Homo sapiens: one gene and its partner. The protein of the gene in region 1 interacts with the protein of each later gene in a pairwise test. Each region holds a gene or a part of one and is shown in the gene's direction. Other genes may lie near its edges.

The links.
Region 2: the proteins of RFXAP (region 1) and EPS8 interact in a two-hybrid assay, tested with the Homo sapiens proteins (one large-scale study listed by BioGRID and IntAct).

What each region holds. Positions count from the first base shown.
Region 1 is NC_000013.11:36,821,945-36,825,777, forward strand, and holds part of RFXAP (regulatory factor X-associated protein), read left to right. Parts: intron 1-3,483; coding exon 3,484-3,591; intron 3,592-3,833. UniProt on the Homo sapiens protein: Part of the RFX complex that binds to the X-box of MHC II promoters.
Region 2 is NC_000012.12:15,622,364-15,625,573, reverse strand, and holds part of EPS8 (epidermal growth factor receptor kinase substrate 8), read left to right. Parts: intron 1-1,166; coding exon 1,167-1,347; intron 1,348-2,286; coding exon 2,287-2,416; intron 2,417-3,210. UniProt on the Homo sapiens protein: Signaling adapter that controls various cellular protrusions by regulating actin cytoskeleton dynamics and architecture. Depending on its association with other signal transducers, can regulate different processes.

The sequences.
Region 1 (3,833 bases):
TCTCTGATTACGGGGATTTAGGGAAATAAGCATCTGGAAAAGAATGAAAGTTAGTAAAGGTGATCAAGTTTCTTCCTCAGTATGTTCCACAGGTGCCCATTCACTTCAGAATTCTTTAGAGAGGGAGAAAAATAATACTTTTTTTCTTTCTTTTTTTTTTTTGAGACAGAGTCTTACTCTGTGTCGCTCAGGCTGGAGTGCAGTGGTGCGATCTCGGCCCACTACAACCTCCACCTCCTGGGTTCAAGCAGTTCTTGTGCCTCAGCCTCCTGAGTAGCTGGGATTACAGGCATGCACCACCACGCCCGGCTAATTTTTGTATTTTTAGTAGAGACGCGGTTTTGCCATGTTGGCCAGTCTGGTCTCGAACTCCTGATCCTCCCACCTCAGCCTCCTGAAGTGCTGGGATTACGGGTGAGACCCACCACGCCGGCCTAATAATACTTATTTTCAAGAAAGAAGTAGTTAACCTATGGCTGCTTACTTTTTTTTTTTTAAACTACCTAACATTTACATCTACAGTGAGGAAAATGTATAAAAGGCAGATAGATACTGAATTAGCGTCTCCCTCTGCACCTCCCACAAAAAGAACCTTATTACTATTTTGTTATTTATTTACTTATCTAATTTTTTAGAGATGGGTCTCACAGTGTTGCCCAGGCTGGCCTCGAATTCCTGGGCTCAAGTGATCCTCCTGCCTCAGCCTTCAGAGTAACTGGGATTATTTCACCACTGCACCTAGCTTCACTATTTTAAAATAATTTGCATGACTTTTTATGGAAGGGAATTAATTGCTATAAGCAACAAATAATACTAATAGTTTACTATCCAGTTTGTCTTATATTTTGGGATACTTTATCAGTTCTGAGGAGGTAACAAGATCTGTAAATCTTTATCTTTGTTAAACTGAGTGTAAAGAAAATAACAGTGCCAGCCAGGATATAATAAGAGCCAACTGTATAGTCCGGTTTTAGTAGTTCAGAGGAGGATAGATCATTGTAGGCTGAGATACTCCAGAAAGGCTTTGCAGAGGAAACGTGACTCAGTATAAACCAGAAAGGATGGGCAATAGTTTACGCTTAATGAGCTGAGTTTCTTATGTGTCAAGCACTGTGTTAAGCTATAAATGGAGTCTCACAACCCTTCAGCAATGGGATAGATACTATATTTTACATACATGGAAACTGAGGCACAGAGAGGCTAAAGAATTTGGCCTAGGTCATACAGCCAGCAAGTATTGTACTCAAACGCAAGCAGTCTTATTCTAGAGCTTTCACTTTTACCTCCTTACTATACTGCTTCCCTAGAATTCTGGTAGATAAAAGGAAAGAGAAGCACATTTTAGTAAAGAAAGAGAAGTAGGAATACAGAAAACACTTTTGTGAAGATAGCAAGTGGACTATTCTAGCTAAAATAGTTGAGTGGAAAATTCATGAGAGAGAAATTTGGAAAGATAGGTTGAAGCCAGTTTTTTATAGTATTGAATGCCAGGCTATGGGATTTGGATTTGGAGTCTTTAAATGAAATGATCTAATTAGGAAGTAGCAGAGGATCCTACCCTGATGGAGTGGGTTAAAGTTGAGAGCCTATAGATTTTGAGACTCTTTCGAAGATTATTATAGTAGGACTGACAGGTGATGATGGTGTCTTCTGCTATGTTGTGAGCAGCAAGATTAGAAATTAAGTTCTCTATTCCAATGAAGAATTTATTAAGGTAAAAAAATTAAAGAAATTAAGGTATCTAAAATTAATATTTCTTACACAAGTCAAGGTTAAATGAGGAACAAATGTGTATAATGTCTACTCCACCAATCTAAGAACTATGCTATATGAGAGACACATAAAGGGACTAGGGATAAATGAATTGACCTCTGCTGGTGGGATTGTTCTTATTAAATATCTAAAAAGCTATCATTTAAGAGAAGCAGTAGACTTATATGGCATGATTCTGAGGTAACTAGGACTCTTAGGCATAAATCACAAGGAGTATGTATTTCAGCTCAGCTTAAGTAAAGCTACCTAACATTCTACCGAAATGTTAGAGCTATTCAAAACCAAATGAAATGTGGCAAAAGTTGGTAAACTCTGTAGGACAAAAAGCATTGCAGGTTTTTGAAAAAGAATTCCAACATCTGTACAAGTTTGGACTAGATGACTAAAGGTTATTTTCACTACAAGCTTCTTTATCTAATTCAGTATCTAATATTTTGTGAATTAACCTTTTGAATTTCCATAGTGGGGTTGTGAGGGCAGAGGGTACTGTACCATCAAGTCAATTTCAGCATTCCATTATCTTGCACATAAAAATGAAAGAATCTCATAAATAAAATCAACTTGGGGGTTGCTGGAGGAGGAAGAAATTATTTTTGTTTCCTCTGGGTATTAGAATTTTCTTTTTACAGTTTTTATATGTTGAGGCCTAAAATGTTTAGGGGTGAAATATTTTTGTAATATCAGGTTGGTAAACTTCTCATAATGAAAGAAATTAAGGGGATATTCTCATAGATAACTCAGAGGCCAGTAGAAAGAAGCCCAAGAGAAAAAACAGCATAGATAATATTCTAAGTAAAGAACAAAGAGGTTAAATTCATGTAAGGTATGGCTTTCCGGTAAAACATTTATAATTTTATATTTGCTACTTTAGTAAGAATTTTGGATGTGGTATTGTGGCATAGTTTTGTAAGAGTCAGAATATTTCAGTCAACTAAACAATATTTTGTTATGCCAGCAAAATTACAAGTATTTAAGATGCTGTCAGGTAACTGGGGGTACATATTTGGTAATAAGTGCTGCTGATTTTGTTTTTGGGCAGTGAAATCTCAGGGTAATGGTATCATTTTAGGACTTACCTGTTTTGTTCATACAGTTGGCAGGAGACTATTTATACTAGTGCTTTTTCAAGCAAGTTTATCTAAATTTTGAAAGCTTTGGTTATCAGTTGCTTCTTTAAACAATATTTTACTACTCCCCCATTTGTTTTGGTTGCCAACTGGGTAAAAAGCTATCAGATATCTTATTGAGCAGTATATAATTTGCCTCTGAGTTCATATATTTCATCCAAAGGCAAGCAGATTATGTTTCGGCCTGGATAGCATTATATAAAGAGAATGGTCAATTCCACTTGGCATTTTTTGTAATATTGAAAATAGCTCACAAGTAACTCTGCCTCAATCTTAGTGGCCCACCTCTCACAGTATTACTATATCACACTCTATCACACACACTATTAATTTTGAGACCTGCCAAGAGACTAAAGAACCCAGGTTGAAAATCTGGGGGGAGAGGGAGCGAGGAGGAATGTTACATTAAATTAACTGCCAATACTTTGCCTATGATAATGAAGAACTTTCCCAGAGTTGCCCAGAGACTGGGCAAGAAGAAGGAAGAAATGCAAAGACCTGTTCATTACATCTTTGAAATACCTGTAATCATGACTTATTACGTTAACTGTTTATCTATTTGCATTTTTATCATTTATCCCAGGAAAGTGCAGATAACATACTCTCCATTGTTAAACAAAGAACAGGATCTTTTGGGGATCGTCCTGCAAGACCTACTCTTTTAGAACAAGTGTTAAATCAAAAAAGACTGGTAAATATCTGTTTGTAAATCAGTTATAAATGTGTTAACAAACGTTTGTTATAAATGGAACAATTGAGATTTTTGAGATTTTTAGCTCATGACATCACACTATACATCAAAATAAATTCCTAATAAGTCAAAATTTTAAAAAAAGAATCGGAACTTTACCTCAAAAATGTAATGAGATTTTTTTTAGCTTATATAGACAAAATCACAGAGAAAAGATTATAAACTTGACTACATAAAAATGA
Region 2 (3,210 bases), on another chromosome or scaffold:
TGTAGTAGAGAGATGGGGGGAAAAGCAAAATTGAATTTCGGCGACATTAAGAGAAAATAGGAGAATGGGAATTGGAGTCCACTAGTACAGGCAACTTTTCGTGAACTTTGCTGTAAAAGGAGCAGAAAAATGGGCAGTAGCTGGGAAAGGACATGGTAAAAAGGACTTGTTTAAAGGTAACAGAAATCATAAAATAATAGCATGTTTGCAGGCTGATGAACTGATTCAGTGAAGAAGGAAAATTAATAACAGGATAAATAAGGGAGAAATGACTCAGTATTTGAATAGGCAGAGAACTTGAGGCCTAGTGCATACATGGATAGTTAGCCTTGGGAGCAGGGAAACAGCTCTTATATAACATAATAGGAAGGCAGGCAGAACATATGGGGAAAGTGCTGTTAGGAAGAACTACTAGAGGAACTTACGGAGGTTTTCTTCTAACTATTTTATTCATAAATTAGGAAATGAGATCAGCTCAAGGTGAGGATTGGGGAATAGGGTTAGAAGTTTGTAGAGAGAAAGTAGAATATATTCAATACTTGTCTAAGACAGTGGGCAGTTACATGACCTTAGGCAGGACTTCTTGGCCTTTGAGGCTGGGTTATTCTCTGCTGTAGGAGAGGCTGACATTATAGAATGTTGTGTGCATCCCAGGCTTCTACCCACTGTGTGACAGCAGCAGCCTTTCCCCTTTTTCTCCCTCAATTGTGACGACCAAAAGTGTCTCCAGATATTCCCAAATGTCCTCTGGGGCCAAAACTGTCCCCAGTTGAGAGCCACCAGTCTAAGGAAATGTAGTATAATTGTCAGGAAGCATTAACAGCCAAGTTAAGGTTCATAATCATGAATTTAACATGAGATCATTCAGCATTGTTGTGTTATATTCAGCTGTGCAGGTGCAGGCACAGAATACGCAGAAAGTTAGGTTTAACCAGGATTGGGGTTTTGCCAAAGGAGTACAATGAAGAGACTAGAGAAGAGCCAGGGAGTTATTTTAATAATTGATCATGGCATTTATACCAGGCGAGGATAAAAGTGAGGAAAGATGGTAGGAACACTAGACTGTAGGTCCTACTGGGGTCAAGGATTATAGAGATTGGGGTTCTAGAGAGGGTGATGTAATATTAGGGATTTTCAAAAAGAACCTACTCCCTGTTGGTGTCTAGGAAGGAAATCTCAGATGGAGGAAGTGCAAGATGAACTCATCCACAGACTGACCATTGGTCGGAGTGCCGCTCAGAAGAAATTCCATGTGCCACGGCAGAACGTGCCAGTTATCAATATCACTTACGACTCCACACCAGAGGATGTGAAGACGTGGTTACAGTCAAAGGGATTCAACCCTGTGTGAGTCTCTCTGTGAATACTTTGCAATTCTGTGTGTACAACATGCATTGTTTTCAATTTGCTTAGTTAGATGTCACAGATAACTGTTATAAAACATAAGGGCACAGACTGCATACTTTGTGCCATACTCAAGAACTCACTATAGCTGTTCATAGCTGAAAAAGAACTAAAATAAGCATAAATAATTATTCTGATGCCACCCCATTTTCGAATTGGTAGTATCTGTTCATTATTAGTTCTTTAAGCAAACTATTGGCAGCTTTGAGGCCCAGTAGCTTCTTTTCTCCATCAGATTACTGTGATGTAACCTAGGTAGGACCATGGTCTTAGCTGAACTTCCTAGACCACATAGGACATAGAGCATAAGCTTTCCTCCTGCTGCAGGATATAGTGTCTCTGGCAAATAAAAAATAGTGTTACCTAGCATCAATTATAATCTTAATAGAACTTTTCCTTTAATAAACCCATAGTAAAGGTTCTATTTATCTATCTAAAAGTCTATAAACATTTCATATGTATTTGGCACAATGAACTATTAGAATAATACATATTCAAGGGACCTTGACATATTATAAACTCACCTACCCAGCATGATTGAAAAATGAGATACAATGGTTAGTCAATTGCCAGGTTACTAGAAAGTTATCTATTCCTTCTATAAAACACCAAATCCCAAGAATTGGTATTAAACAATGACCCTAAACCGAATTGGCTCATTTTTGATACTTTGTAATTAATAATCTGTATAGCCTCAGGGTCATCATCATGAAAGAAACTTGTCATTGCCCTAACTATAAAGACTGTAGTGGCATTTAATAAGGGTTCCAGGGTATGGAACGCTTAGAAAAGAGAAGTTACTAGCAGGAACAGATAATTTTCTCCTTTGTTTGTAGGCAATATTTTTAATGCTCAGTTTCTTTTTCCTTTTTTTTTTTTTAGGACTGTCAATAGTCTTGGAGTATTAAATGGTGCACAACTTTTCTCTCTCAATAAGGATGAACTGAGGACAGTCTGCCCTGAAGGGGCGAGAGTCTATAGCCAAATCACTGTACAAAAAGCTGCATTGGAGGTATGACTTGTCAACCTAAGGTGGTGTTTTTCTGCAAATTGAAAGCTCTGGAAACAACTATTTATGTCCATATTGGCCAATTTCCCTTTCTTAACAGAGCTGAATTAAATTTAACTCTGCTTTTGTAAATTTGTCACTGAGATCATCAATGACAGTTTCCAGAAGGTTAATTTGTTATAAATGCTCATATGATGTGAAGCTTGAGCACATACTTTTGGAAACTTGACAAAAAGCATAATGTTCTCATTTTATATGTATTGACTAATTCTATAGGAAATTTAATTTTGACATAACAATGGAAATTAGCTTCTGAGTGAGTAAGAGCCTTAAGAGGCCAGAATCCTTGCCTATTCTTAATATTTTTTTTTTTTTGGAGATTCTAATAACGTATAGGTTATAAGATTGTAAAACCCTGGCTGTGTGTGTTAGGTCTAGTAATACATCTCAATAATCGGGAAAGATACATTAGGTAGAGATCACTGAAAATAGAGAGCCTGGAAAAGTATTTAATCACAATGGTCTGTATGAAAGCAGGAGAGTCATGTTTTCTAGATTGCTTTATACTTAAGCTTCCAATATCCTATTTTAGACTTAAAATGTGCTATATACGGGTAGTAGTTTCCAACTGTTACATCTCACAGCTCTTAATAGTTTCATGAAAATTATACTTGGACTCAAATGAAAGAATGTAGGCTTTGGCATGAAATTGATCCATAATCATCTCTAGCAGGTATATTCTATAAATTCAACAGTTAAATAATTCAGGGTAAAATCACTTCATGCGTATCACCCCG